Linked DNA regions of Homo sapiens. The protein of the gene in region 4 interacts with the protein of the main gene of each other region in a pairwise test. Each region holds a gene or a part of one and is shown on either strand. Other genes may lie near its edges.

Evidence for each region. Proteins that work in one complex are often made in the same cells at the same time.
Region 1: the proteins of CTNNA3 (region 4) and ANTKMT interact in binary tests that used the Homo sapiens proteins (3 or more experiments, as listed by UniProt).
Region 2: the proteins of CTNNA3 (region 4) and GINS3 interact in binary tests that used the Homo sapiens proteins (3 or more experiments, as listed by UniProt).
Region 3: the proteins of CTNNA3 (region 4) and ZGPAT interact in binary tests that used the Homo sapiens proteins (3 or more experiments, as listed by UniProt).

What each region holds. Positions count from the first base shown.
Region 1 is NC_000016.10:719,711-723,090, reverse strand, and holds ANTKMT (adenine nucleotide translocase lysine N-methyltransferase), read right to left. Parts: upstream 1,946-3,380; 5' UTR 1,817-1,945; coding exon 1,655-1,816; intron 1,494-1,654; coding exon 1,389-1,493; intron 1,291-1,388; coding exon 1,150-1,290; intron 1,008-1,149; coding exon 957-1,007; intron 783-956; coding exon 534-782; 3' UTR 501-533; downstream 1-500. Other genes in the region: CCDC78 (coiled-coil domain-containing protein 78), read left to right, coding at 1-169, 302-413.
Region 2 is NC_000016.10:58,395,471-58,398,970, forward strand, and holds part of GINS3 (DNA replication complex GINS protein PSF3), read left to right. Parts: intron 1-3,500. UniProt on the Homo sapiens protein: Required for correct functioning of the GINS complex, a complex that plays an essential role in the initiation of DNA replication, and progression of DNA replication forks.
Region 3 is NC_000020.11:63,711,039-63,714,538, reverse strand, and holds part of ZGPAT (zinc finger CCCH-type with G patch domain-containing protein), read right to left. Parts: intron 1-3,500. UniProt on the Homo sapiens protein: Transcription repressor that specifically binds the 5'-GGAG[GA]A[GA]A-3' consensus sequence. Represses transcription by recruiting the chromatin multiprotein complex NuRD to target promoters.
Region 4 is NC_000010.11:65,915,196-65,918,695, reverse strand, and holds part of CTNNA3 (catenin alpha-3), read left to right. Parts: 3' UTR 1-3,500. UniProt on the Homo sapiens protein: May be involved in formation of stretch-resistant cell-cell adhesion complexes.

The sequences.
Region 1 (3,380 bases), on a different chromosome or scaffold from region 4:
GAGGCAAGGGCTGGCCCAGGCCCATCCTCACGCCATGCCCCAGCTCATGGCTTACATCCCCATGCCAGGCAGAGCTGGAACGGGAGCGGGCACAGCTGCTGGTCCGGGCCACGATGGCTGAAGAGCAACTTTCTGAGCTACAGGAGTACGTGGACCAGCACCTGGGCAGGTGGGCAGAGGGAGCTGGGTGTGACCCCAGGGCCCTGGTCTGGTTGGAATGAAGGATGATGGCTGCCTCAGGCGCTAAAAGCAGACCTGTCCACAGCTGGGCAAGTCACTTAAGCATGGTTCCTCTGAGCAGGTACAAGCACGAAATCCTGAGGCTGAGGAAGCTGGCAGGTGCAGGGGACCCCTGGAAAGTGGGGGCTGTGCCTCCAGCCAAGCCCCAGCATCCAAGGACCGGCAGCCACTAGGCCGTCTCCCAAGGAGCAGAGCAGAGCAGAGCTCCTCAGCCAGCACAGAACCCTCCCACCCAGCCCCCCATAAAACATGAGTCAGGATAGAACCCACAGAGTCTTTATCGTGTCTAATACTCAGCTGGCCTGAGAAATAAGGCCCCCCGGGATGGGGGCAGAACTAGGTCCGGGGGCAGCCTGGATGGGTATCCGCGAGGAGGCGGCCTCCCCAGCCTGCCCACCCTCAGGAACATCATAAGCCCATACTCGGTCCAGGCCCTCGCCAACCGCGGTCACAGGCTGCCAGGTGGGGAGTGGGAAGCGCCCAGACACCACGCGGGCCCCAGCAGGCAGCTCTGTCCGCAGCTTGTCCTCCAGCAGCGGGAGCTGAGGGAGAGAACAGCAGAGTAGAGGGGGCGGGGGCGGGGCCGGTAGAAAACAGCCGCGCTCACCCCCCTAGCCCCAAGCCTAGCACCCACCAGGCAGGCCCAGGCCTCAGAGCAGCAAACACCCTGGGGTGTGGCTGGGGCTTCCCAGCGGGGCTGGCAACCCCGCACCTACCACGCTAGGGGCCAGGAACACAGACACGTTGCGGCAGTCCCTCAGGCTCACCTGCCGGAAGAGAAGTCGCCCCGGCCGGGGAGAGGCCTGGTGGGCACCGGGTCATCGCAGCTTCCGAGTCCCGGCCCCCAGCCCTCGCAGGTGTCAGCCGCACCTTGGGCTGTCAGCGGGTGGCCAGGGATCCCCAGGTTACCTTCCAGAGATCCTTGCGGCGATAGCAGACGCTGCCGGCACAGCCGGCCCTCCAGGCGTGCAGCCGCGCCAGCGCCACCAGCCAGGGGTTCAGCTCGTAGCCCACGGCCGGGCGGAGGCCGCACCTGTGGGCCGCCAGCACCTGTGGGCACCGAGAGTGTGGGAACCAGGATGTGGGCAGGGGCGCCCGCCAGCAGGTGGGCGGTGTGGGGCGGCGAAGACCCAGACGCAGGCACTTACGATCCTGCCGTCGCCAGAGCCCAGATCCACCGTTTTTCCGGGGCGTCCTCGCAGCAGCGACAACACGTGCTCCACCTGCCGCGCGCTCGCGCCGACGTAGGGCACCTGGACCGGGTGGCGGCGAGAGTCCACTGGCCGCTCCCGCCCCGCCCGCAGCCCGGCCCGAACTACCACACGGCGGGGCGGAGCTCACCCCGGCCACGCCCAGACCTTGAGACCCTGAGCGGCAGCCGAGCTCCCCTGCCCGGCCTGGCCCCGCCCCGCACCTGCAGCCGCAGCGGCACGCGCCGGAAGCCGGGCTGGAGCAGCAGCGCCCACACCGCGTAGGCTGCCAAGCCCGAGCCGGCCGCCGCCTGCAGCAGCTCCAGCGCGCCCAGCCGCCGCTCGCGCAGCTCCGTCAGCGCCTCGACCGGGTCGTCCTGCTCCATGGCTGCGGGACGCGCGGCTCGTCCGCCCAAGGTCCTTCCCGGCTCGGGTCCGCGGCCCTCGCAGCCTGGCCTGGGGCTGGCGGTGTGCCCTCTGCCTCCTGCCGGGAGCCGCCGCGCGACACCGGAAGTGGCCGGCAGAGCCTGCGCGGTCGGTCCGTGGCGCTGTGCGCTCCGCCCAGCCCGGCTGCCCTCCCGCGGGTTCCGGCGAGCTGCAGCCTCGGGGGCTCTGCCCCGCCGCGTCCGGCTCCAAGCCTGCGAGGGTCGGCTCCGTTGGTCCGCTCTGCGGACCGCCGTTTGCGGCCTGTGCTGGCTGCTGGCGACCCGCGGAAGGGGACAGGCAGGCCCTGCCCTGGGGGAGCGCACGTGCCGGCGGGAGTCGGGATACACCCGGCGATCTCACGGGCTAGAGCCCCAGGGAAACGGGGCTGCGCGTCTTTGTCGTGGAATGAAGGGAAGTCTGCCTTGGAGAGGGGCGGTCCTGGCCCCAGAACCAGCCGGGGGCTCGCGTGGGGCGGCTGGAGCCCAGGGAGCCGGTGGGAAAGCGGCTCCCCGGGATGAGACAGCGTCCAGGCGCCAGCACCCCCATGACTCTGCCTCGGGGAGACTGCTGGGGGCGCTCCGCTGACTCGGACACCCAGCGCCAGCCAGAGCCCGGGAGGACATCCTTCCATTTCCCTCCTACAGCCTGAGCGATGAGCCCCAGTGGGCGGTGAAGGGATGGGGGGTGGGGTCTGAGGGAGAAGGGCATGGAGGAGGGGCTGACACGGAGGAGAGCTTGAGCAGGCCCAAGAAGACAGATGCTGGCTCTCAGGCGAGTGTGGTGGGAGGAAAGCCGGATGTCACAGGCGGGGGCCTCTGGCACCTGCCAGCTACAGGGAAGGCAGACAGCCCCGGGAGTGGGGAGATCACCTTCCTTCTCCAGAAAACAACACACAAAAAGACTGAGTTCCTGGAGGTGACCTTGTGAAGCTGGGGGTGGGAAGCGCAAGTGGAAGAGCCGAGCTCTGGGTCAGGCAGCTGGGCCACGACCTCCACACCCAGGGTAGGGCTGAACACCCGTGAATGTCGGGGGTTGTCTATGCGTGCCCTGGCCTAGCTCCTCCTTAGCCATCCGTGGCTGGGGTCTAGAGCCCCTGCAGGGACAGAGGCTGCTTCCAGACATGGGTATGCCGCAGACCACAGCCCCCAGCTCCCAAGTGCAGAGTCTCACAGGCCTGCCCACGTTGGCCCCAGCCCCACCCAGCTCAGCGTGTCCTGTCTCCTGGGGGCCTGGAACGGCCCTCCCAGGAAAGGAAGGGTGTATGTACACTGAGCTCTAGGGGGAGCTGACAGCGCCCATTCCTGTCCTGCTGCCTGCATTATTCCCTGCACCTAGAGCAGTTACCTAGGAGGCTTACTGGATGAATGCACCTAATTGGACTCTAGCGTGCACTCTCCACTCTTCTTTTTTTTTTTTTTTTTTTTTTTTTTTTTTTTTTGAGACTTGAGTCTCGCTCTTTCGCCCAGGTTGGAGTGCAGTGGCGCAGTCTTGGCTCACTGCAACCTCTGCCTTCCAGGTTCAAGT
Region 2 (3,500 bases), on a different chromosome or scaffold from region 4:
CCTGCGGCCTTCCGCAGTGTTTGTGTCCCTGGGTACTTGAGATTAGGGAGTGGTGATGACTCTTAACGAGCATGCTGCCTTCAAGCATCTGTTTAACAAAGCACATCTTGCACCACCCTTAATCCATTCAACCCCTGAGTGGACACAGCATATGTTTCAGAGAGCACAGGGTTGGGGGTAAGGTCACAGATCAACAGGATCCCAAGGCAGAAGAATTTTTCTTAGTACAGAACAAAATGAAAAGTCTCCCACGTCTACTTGTTTCTACACAGACACAGCAACCATCCGATTTCTCAATCTTTTCCCCACCTTTCCCCCCTTTCTATTCCACAAAGCCGCCATTGTCATCCTGGCCCGTTCTCAATGAGCTGTTGAGTACACCTCCCAGACGGGGTGGTGGCCGGGCAGAGGGGCTCCTCACTTCCCAGTAGGGGCGGCCGGGCAGAGGTGCCCCTCACCTCCCGGACGGGGCGGCTGGCTGGGCGGGGGGCTGGCCCCCCCACCTCCCTCCCGGACAGGGCGGCTGGCTGGGCAGAGGGGCTCCTCACTTTCCAGTAGGGGCGGCCGGGCAGAGGCGCCCCTCACCTCCCGGACGGGGCGGCTGGCCGGGCGGGGGGCTGACTCCCCCACCTCCCTCCCGGACGGGGCGGCTGGCTGGGTGGGGGGCTGACCCCCCCACCTCCCTCTTGGACGGGGCGGCTGGCCGGGCAGAGGGGCTCCTCACTTACCAGTAGGGGCGGCCGGGCAGAGGCGCCCCTCACCTCCCAGACGGGGCGGCTGGCCGGGTGGGGGGCTGACTCCCCCACCTCCCTCCCGGACGGGGCGGCTGGCCGGGCAGAGGGGCTCCTCACTTACCAGTAGGGGCGGCCGGGCAGAGGCGCCCCTCACCTCCCGGATGGGGCGGCTGGCCGGGCAGGGGGCTGACCCCCCCACCTCCCTCCCGGACGGGGCGGCTGGCTGGGCAGAGGGGCTCCTCACTTCCCAGTAGGGGCGGCCGGGCAGAGGCGCCCCTCACCTCCCGGACGGGGAGGCTGGCCGGGCGGGGGCTGACCCCCCCACCTCCCTCCCGGACGGGGCGGCTGGTCGGGCGGGGGCTGATCCCCCCCACCTCCCTCCCGGACGGGGCGGCTGGCCGGGCGGGGGGCTGATCCCCCCACCTCCCTTCCCGGACGGGGCGGCTGGCCGGGCGGTGGGCTGACCCCCCGACCTCCCTCCCGGACGGGGCGGCTGGCCGGGCGGGGGGCTGACCTCCCCACCTCCCTCCCGGACGGGGCGGCTGGCCGGGCGGGGGGCTGACCCCCCCACCTCCTTCCCGGACAGGGCGGCTGGCCGGGCAGAGGGGCTCCTCACTTCCCAGTAGGGGCGGCCGGGCAGAGGCGCCCCTCACCTCCCGGACGGGGCGGCTGGCCGGGCGGGGGGCTGACCCCCCCACCTCCTTCCCGGACGGGGCGGCTGGCCGGGCAGAGGTGCTCCTCACATCCCAGTAGGGGTGGCCGGGCAGAGGCGCCCCTCACCTCCAGGAGAGGGCGGCTGGCTGGGCGGGGGGCTGACCCCCCCACCTCCCTTCCGGACAGGGCGGCTGGCCGGGCGGGGGGCTGACCCCCACCTCCCTCCTGGATGGGGTGGCTGCCGGGCGGAGACGCTCCTCACTTCCCAGACGGTGTAGCTGCCGGGCGGAGGGGCTCCTCACTTCTCAGACGGGGTGGTTGCCAGGCAGAGGGTCTCCTCACTTCTCAGACGGGGCGGCCGGGCAGAGATGCTCCTCACATCCCAGACGGGGCAGCAGGGCAGAGGCACTCCCCACATCTCAGACGATGGGCGGCCGGGCAGAGACGCTCCTCACTTCCTAGATGGGATGGCGGCCGGGCAGAGACGCTCCTCACTTTCCAGACTGGGCAGCCAGGCAGAGAGGCTCCTCACTTCCCAGACGGGGTGGCAGCCGGGCAGAGGCTGCAATCTCGGCACTTTGGGGGGCCAAGGCAGGCAGCTGGGAGGTGGAGGTTGTATCGAGCCGAGATCACGCCACTGCACTCCAGCCTGGGCACCATTGAGCACTGAGTGAACGTGACTCCGTCTGCCATCCCGGCACCTCGGGAGGCTGAGGCTGGCGGATCACTCGCGGTTAGGAGCTGGAGACCAGCCCGGCCAACACAGCGAAACCCCGTCTCCACCAAAAAAATACGAAAACCAGTCAGGCGTGGCGGCGCGCGCCTGCAATCACAGGCACTCGGCAGGCTGAGGCAGGAGAATCAGGCAGGGAGGTTGCAGTGAGCCGAGATGGCAGCAGTACAGTCCAGCTTCGGCTCGGCATCAGAGGGAGACCGTGGAAAGAGAGGGAGAGGGAGACCGTGGGGAGAGGGAGAGGGAAAGGGAGAGGGAGAGCTTGTCTAAATTTTCAATGGTATCAGTACAATGTTCAGAATTTCCTTTACTATCTTTTTAATGTCAGTAGGATTACAGTGGTGTCCTTATTTTTATTTTTAATATCAATAAATTGTGTTCTCCCTTTCTTGATTACCCTTGCCAGGAGTCTATCAATTTTTTTATTCTTTTAAAAGAACTAACTTAGGACTCTGTTGGTTTTCTCTTTTGTACCTTTGTTTTTTAGGTCATTAATTTTTTAATTAGTTCTTTCCTTCTACTTTATTTGGGCTTAATTCTCCCACCACACACACACACACAGATACACATTTTGAGATGGAAACCTAGGTCATTAATTTTTCAATCTTCTTTTATACATTCATAGCTATTCATTTCTTTTAAGTGAAATTATTCTATTCAATTCACAACTTTAATTGCGTTTCATAAGTTTTGATGTGTTATATTTTCATTATCAATGAACTAAAAATACTTTTTAGGCCAGGCATGGTGGCTCACACCTATAGACCCAACACTGGGAGGTGGAGGCAGGAGGATCACTTGAGCCCAGGAGTTCGAGACCAGCCTAGGCAACATAGTGAGTCCCCATCTCTACAAAAAATTTTTTAAAAAAGCCGAGCATGGTAGCACACACCTGTGGTCACAGCTACTCAGGAGGCTGAGGCAAGAGGATCACTTAAGCCTTGGAGGGTCAGTACTGCAGTGAGCCGTGATCACACCACTGCACTCCAGCCTAGATGACACAGCAAGATACTGTCTCAAAAGAAAATAAATAAAAATTTTAAAATACTGTTTAATTTTGCGTTTTAAAATACTGTTTAAAATACTGTTTAATTGTGATTTCTTTTTTGACCTGTAGGTATTTAGAAGACTAGTGCTTAATTTCAAACATTTTGAGATTTGGTCATTTACCATTTTTTATTTCTAGCTTAATTCCACCGTGGCCAGAAAACATAGTCTACATGATTTCAGTCTTGAAAGTTGCTGAGACTTGCTCTATGGCAAAGCATAAGACCAATTTAACCATTCTGTGTGGACTTGAAAAGATGTCTATGGGAAGTCATAGTGTGCAATAAATAATCCGTATGTGTAAATTAGCTCATTTGTTAATTGTTTTGTTG
Region 3 (3,500 bases), on a different chromosome or scaffold from region 4:
GTGAAAGACTAAAAGTTTTCCACCTAATATCAGGAACAAAAAAGTTTTCCACCTAAGATCAGGAACAAGATAAAGATGTTTGTTCTAGCCACTTTTTTTTTTTTTTTTTTTAAAGACAGGGTTCTTGCTCTGTCGTCCAGGCTGGAGTGGAGTGGCATGATCTTGGCTCACTGCAACCTCCGCCCCCCAGGTTCAAGCAATTCTCATGTCTCACCCTCTCAAGTAGCTGGGACTACAGGTGCACATCACCTCACCCAGCTAATTTTTGTATTTTTAGTAGAGATGGGGTTTCGCCGTGTTGGCCAGGCTGGTCTCAAACTGCTGATCTCAAGTGATCTGCCCACTTCCACCTCCCAAAGTGCTGGGAACACAGGTGTGAGCCACCACCCCCGGCCCGCTCTAGTCACTTTTATTCAACATTGTACTTGAAGTTCTAGCTAAGGCAGTTAAGCAAGAAAAAGAAATAAATGCCATGCAAACTAGAAACAAAGACTACAATTATCTCTATTCACATATATATTAATTGTATATATTGAATATATATGATTGTATATATCGAAAATCCTAAATAGTGCATAAAAAATCCTATTAGCACTAATAAACCAATTCAGCAATCAATACAGGATTAACATAAAAAAATCCACTGTATTTCTTTTTTTTTTTTTTTGAGATGAAGTCTCACTCTTGTTCCCCAAGCTGGAGTGCAATGGCGCGATCTCAGCTCACTGCAACCTCCGCCTCCCAGGTTCAAGCAATTCTCTTGCCTCAGCCTCCTGAGTAGATGGGATTACAGGCACCTGCCACCATGCCAGACTAATTTTTGTATTTTTAATAGAGGCTGGATTTCACCATGTTGGCCAGGCTGGTCTCGAACTCCTGACCACAGGTGATCCACCCGCCTTGGCCTCCCAAAGTGCTGGGATTACAGGCGTGAGCCACGGTGCCCAGCTTGTATTTCTATATACTAGCAACAAACAGCCTGAAAATGTAACTAAGGAAAACAACTCCAGCCGGGCACAGTGGCTCACATCTGTAATCCCAGCACTTTGGGAGGCCGAGGCAGGCAGATCACCTGAGGTCAAGAGTTCGAGACCATCCTGGCTACATGGTGAAACCCCATCTCTACTAAAAATACAAAAAATTAGCTGGGCGTGGTGGCAGGCACCTGTATTCCCAGCGACTCAGGAGGCTGAGGCAGAAGAATGGTGTGAACCCGGGAGGTGGAGCTTGCAGTGAGCCAAGATTGGGCCACTTCACTCCAGCCTGGGCAACAGAGCAAGACTCCATCTCAAAAAAAAAAATTAGCTGGGTGTGGTGGCAGGCACCTGTGATCCCAGCTACTTGGGAGGCTGAGCAGAAGAATTGCTTGAACCCGGGAGGCAGAGGTTGCAGTGAGCCAAGATTGTGCCATTGCACTCCAGCCTGGGTGACAGAGCAAGACTCTGTCTCAAAAAAAAAAGGAAAAGAAAAACAATTCCTTAGAGAAGCATCAAAAATAATACTTATTTAACCAAGAATGTGCAAGACTTGAACAGTACAAAATACTGTTGAAAGAAATTAAAGACGTAAATAAATGGACAGATCCTTCATTCATGAATTGGAAGACTTAATACTGTTTTTTTCTTCTGTTATTGTTGTTGTTTAAGATGGAGTCTCCCTCTGTTACCCAGGCTGGAGTGCAGTGGCATGATCTCAGCTCACTGCAACCTCCTCCTCCCAGGTTCAAGCGATTCTCCTGCCTCACCCTCTCGTGTAGCTGGGATTACAGGTGTGCACCACCTCCGACTAATTTGTTTTTTATTTTTAGTAGAGACGGGGTTTCACCACGTTGGCCAGGCTGGTCTTGAACTCCTGACCTCAAGTGATATGCCCGCCTCAGCCTCCCAAAGTACTGGGATTACAGGCGTCAGCCACCACACCCAGCCAGAAGGCTTAATATTGTAAAGATGACAATGTGCCCCAAACAGATCTACACATTCTATGCAATCCATATCAAAATTCAAACTGTCTTTTATGCAGAATTGGACAAGCCGATCCTAAAATTCATATGAAATTGCAAAGGATCCAGAAACAAAACAAACTTGAAAAAGAGGAGCAAATGGTGAATAACTACCACTTCCTGAGTTTAAAACTTATCACAAAGCTATAATAATCAGAACAGTGTGGTACTGGCACATATACACCAATGGAACAGGAGAGAGAGCTCAGAAATAAACCCTTACATATATTGCCAATTGATTTTGGACAAAAGTGCCAAGACCATTCAGTGGAGAAAAAGCAGTCTTTTAAACAAATGGTGCTGGGAAAACTGGAAATCCACATGCAAAAGAATAAAGTGGACCCTCACCTAATAACATATACAAAAATTAACTCAAAATGGATCAAAGACCTAAATTTAACAGCTAAAACTACAGAACTCTTAGAAGAAAACATAGGTGAAAATCCTCATAACTATGGATGAGGTGGTTTCTTAAACCTGATGACAAAAACATAGGCAATAAAGAAACAATAAATTGCACTGCATCAAAATTTAAAATGTTTGTGCATCAAAGGACACTATATCAAGTGAAAAGACAACCCAAACAATGGGAGCAAATATCTGCAAACTATATACTTCATAAGGGATGATATCCAGAATATATAAAGAAATCCTGGGCCGGGTGTGGTGGCTCATGCCTGTAATCCCAGCACTTTGGGAAACCAAGGCGGGATCACCTGAGGTCAAGAGTTCGAGACCAGCCTGGCCAACATGGTGAAACCCTGCCTCTACTAAAAATATAAAAATTAGCTGGGCACCACGTGGTGACAGGCGCCTGTAATCCCAGCTACTTGGGAGGCTGAGGCAGGAGAATCCCTTGAACCCAGGAGGTGGAGGTCATGCCATTGTACTCTAGCCTGGGCAACAACAGTGAAACTCCATCTTAAAAAAAAAAAAAAGGTCCAACGCAAATCCAAGAGAACTTATCAGTCCTGAATGGTGGCAAGGTGGACGTCTGTAAGATGCTCCGGAAGCTTTCAGATCAGGCCTGATGCCGACATGGCAAGCAGCACTGGGTGGAGCAGGGGACGGAACGAGGGCTGGGGGCAACCGGAGCCCTCTGAGCCTTGAAGCCCTGGACCACTCAGTTCTTCTACTCCTGTTTCCTCCTCTGTCAGATGGTGTGACTGCAGGGCCTACCTACAGGGCTGTTGCACAGATGAATGAAAGTATATGAAACCCTTGGAGCAGTGCCTGGCCCAGAGGGAGCACCACAGGGATGTGTCAGATCTCTCATCAAAGGGATCAGGAATTCGAGACCTGGGTAATATGGTGAAATCCCGTCTCTACAAAAAATACAAAAATTAGCTGGGCGTGGCAGTGCACACTTGTAGTATCAGCTATTAGGGAGGCTGAGGTGGGAGGATGGCTTGGGCCAGGGAGGCGGAGATTGCAGTGAGCCGAGATTGTGCCACTGCACTCCAGCCTGGGTGACAGAGCAGCAAGACGCTGTTTCAAAAAA
Region 4 (3,500 bases):
GCTCAGTGTAAAACTTCCTAGGAGGTGAAGGCAATAAACTCCTCCCTGTTTTGCACCATAGACTGGCCTACAATAACTATTCTGAACAGAATGCACTGCCCAGAAGAAAAGGCAGTGAAGAAGGGAATTAGGGAATTCAGATGACTCTGTTTTTCAGAATTATCTAGATGATTGAGGCAAATAGAGATTTTCTTTTATTGAAATGCTGCCATCATTTTCTGCTCTAAGTGTAGATGTTGCACGAGTGACATCTGTGGTATATCCTTCTTCCAGATAGAAGTATAAATTTATAATTTAGTGGGGAGAGGAATTTTCTTTTAATCACCAAACTACCAGCTGTATAGAAAATTTTTTTGAAATCACCAAACTAGCAGTTGTGTATCTTAGCTCCTAAAGCCACATTCACAAGAATCATAAGCATCTCATTTAGAAAATCTAATGTCCACCGGACCCAACATCATCTTTCCACATGTTGGAGTTTAGAACATGCAGTATTGGACACCAAAAGAACAGAAATAACTTGAAATTATACAATTACCAAATAACCTCCATCTCTTTGATAAAAATGACTTTTTACCCAAAGTGAGATGTGAACAAGTTCTCCTCTTTAACCCAGGCAGATTTTCAGCTTAGCTCAAAGCAAACTATAATTAAATAAAACAATAAAAATTTTAACTCAATGAATATCCTAGGAGTTAATCTGCTGTGGTAATCGATAGTGACATAAAAACAAGATGCATAGAGCTGAAAAAGGCATCTGTCCACCTGAGTGAATTCCTGTAGTAGGCAGCATTTCAAGATTTAGTTTGATTCAAACCTGCTGATAAAACAAATGCTTATATGCAAGAAAAACTAGCAGCAAGATATGAATAAATCTCCCCATTATGTTAAAAACTAATCAGCATGACACATTTATATTTAGGTATTTCTTCTGCAGAGGATTGCCAGAAATTTCTTAATGAGAGTGATAATTTGGTGATCCACCTATGTACCTTTTGATGTCTCATCACAGAGATTAGTGCTTCCTCTGATAATACATTTGCTTGATCCTGCTAATAAGAACTCACCTTTCTTTTTAACGAAATCAATTTGTGTTAATTTACATAGGGAAAAACGTTCCTTGAGAGGGAGGAGAGGGGTGTTTACCACCCACAGGAGCAGTTCCATCCCTGGTTACCCACCAGTATCCCTGCCAGATGTTAGACTGGAATTAGAATGAAAATTTAAAAAAAAACGAAATAATAATCCACTAAATGGCCTTCTAATTAGAGAAATTTGAAGATTTCTATCAAATATAAAAAGTGAGAAATAGAAATCATTCCCTTTAATTTATGACAAATTAAAATTATTGAAGTAAAATGTTTCTAAGTCAGTTTCTGGATAGTTCTTGAATGAGTCAAGAAAAAACTCAAACACTAAATTTCTAAGCTAATTTGTTCATTATTCCTTTCTGTTTATTATTTATTATATGAGTGCAAATTGCAAATGTATTAGAAAAGACAATATAGCCTTCACATTCACAAGTGTGCCTTCTGGCCTTTGAAATCTTTTAACATAAGATCAATATAACATATTTGTTCCCCATAAAAATCTCTTATGTACAGGGAATAAGGTCCTCCATAGCTACACAGAGACACCCATTCTTGCAGTCTGGCATTCTTAACACCTTTAGCTTCAAAGGCAGTCGGTTTCAATTTCAAGCTAAAATTGTGAATATACAATTAAGTGCGCAACTTGGGCCTTCAGACCAAATAATTAATGCTCCTCAAATTAAATAATGAGTGGCTGAAAAGCCTAATGTGTAACAACAGAGTAAGTGACTTCAACGGCTTCCTGAACCTTCATTTTGAGGGTGTTCTCATCTCACCCACCTCTGGGCTAGGTATCCTCTGTTAATTGCTAACAATTTCCTACCAAAATAGTGCAATCAGGACTGCCCATCACAGCAAATTACTCCAATTAATGCCCTTTCCTCTTCTGTGAACCAAAAATATCTCTCTCCTGTCTCTCATCTCTATCCCAGGTATAAATTGACTAATAAATTTTACAGAGTTTTAGTCAAAATTATGAATTTTAATTTCCAGCAACATTATTCCTTTAGTCTTTCTATTCCCCAAAACATTCTTAAATTTTGGTATCAAATGTTCATTTCTGTCCTAGAGATTGTGGTTCCCATGGCTACAGATTTTTGTATAGTGGTAGTATGAGTGGAATAAGATCTGAGACTTTTCCTGGTGATATCCACCATTCTCTTGTGAACTCATTGCAGAATAAACAGCCTCTTTCACTTTCATTGTAAGTAGTTCTTTAGGTTGGCAAAGCAGGCACCAGAATCTGAATTTGAATGAAATCTGTACTTTCTTTTGTTGGCCTATTTTTTGCCAAGACAGCCTGCCTATTGTATATTTAGGAATCAAATATTCATTTTTTCTGTTTGTAAAGCCAGAAATATTTCAGTTAAAAAGAATATAATTTTATATTATTTTAATAATTCTTTTTAAGTAAAGTAGGAAAATTTCTGCCACCTGAGATGTTACTGTTTTTATTTATATGAAAATTCCATTTTTTTCTTTATGACTCTTTTCCCATACCATTATGATATGTTCAGCATTAGTATTTTCCATTTTACCACTAAACAAATAAGCCAGGACTAATAACAATAGCAGTTTGAGAGTTTTTATTTTGGCATTTTGGTTTTAATTAGGAAAGAAAACATGGATGCTATTAAAACTAGTTGTAGTTAAAAATGTTTTGAATGAGGCTACTAACGCTATCTTAGTCATCTCAAAGAGAAAGAGAAGAAGTAAAATTTTAAATACCTTTTTGGCATTTTTAACCAATTCATATGAACAAAAACATATATTCTATTAAAGCAAAATAAAGAATAGTTTAAAACACTAGTCTTCTTGCATGTGAATATTTTCCCCCTAACAGACAAGATAGAATCCATTTCTGGACACTCTAAAAGAAAGTAATGTTAATTGAGAGAGCTGTCTCCAAATGGAACTCAACCTGACCAGAATCCCATCCGCAGGCAAGAGATGGGCTGTGGGGCCGACCATAAGTTTTATTCTGAGACGAGATGCTTTATGGCTGCTGGCTGCATTATGGCATCTAGCAGTCCCCACTGGTTTGTGGGAACAAAACACATGGATTGATATTCAATATGAGTTTGGTAAGTTGGAGAAAAATGGAGACGATACGGAGTAGTCTAAAGGCACAACAAATAAGAAGGTGCCAGAGGTAGGGAAGGGTCTGAGAGGGGTAGTTGCAGAAGCATTTAGCTTTCATAGATGAGGGGAGAGTTTTTTGGTTTTATGAAGATTAGGCAGCCCTCCTGAGGAAAGTATTAAGGATAGAATGAGACACTTGTCTTGGTGGTTTGGTGAAGTCGTGTCGAAGGCAAAAGGATGAACTACACATATTTTGAGCATGATTTAGTAATATTGTTTGCAAGTTGAGAAACAGAAATTCAGCCATTCTCCTGACTGATGGTAGGT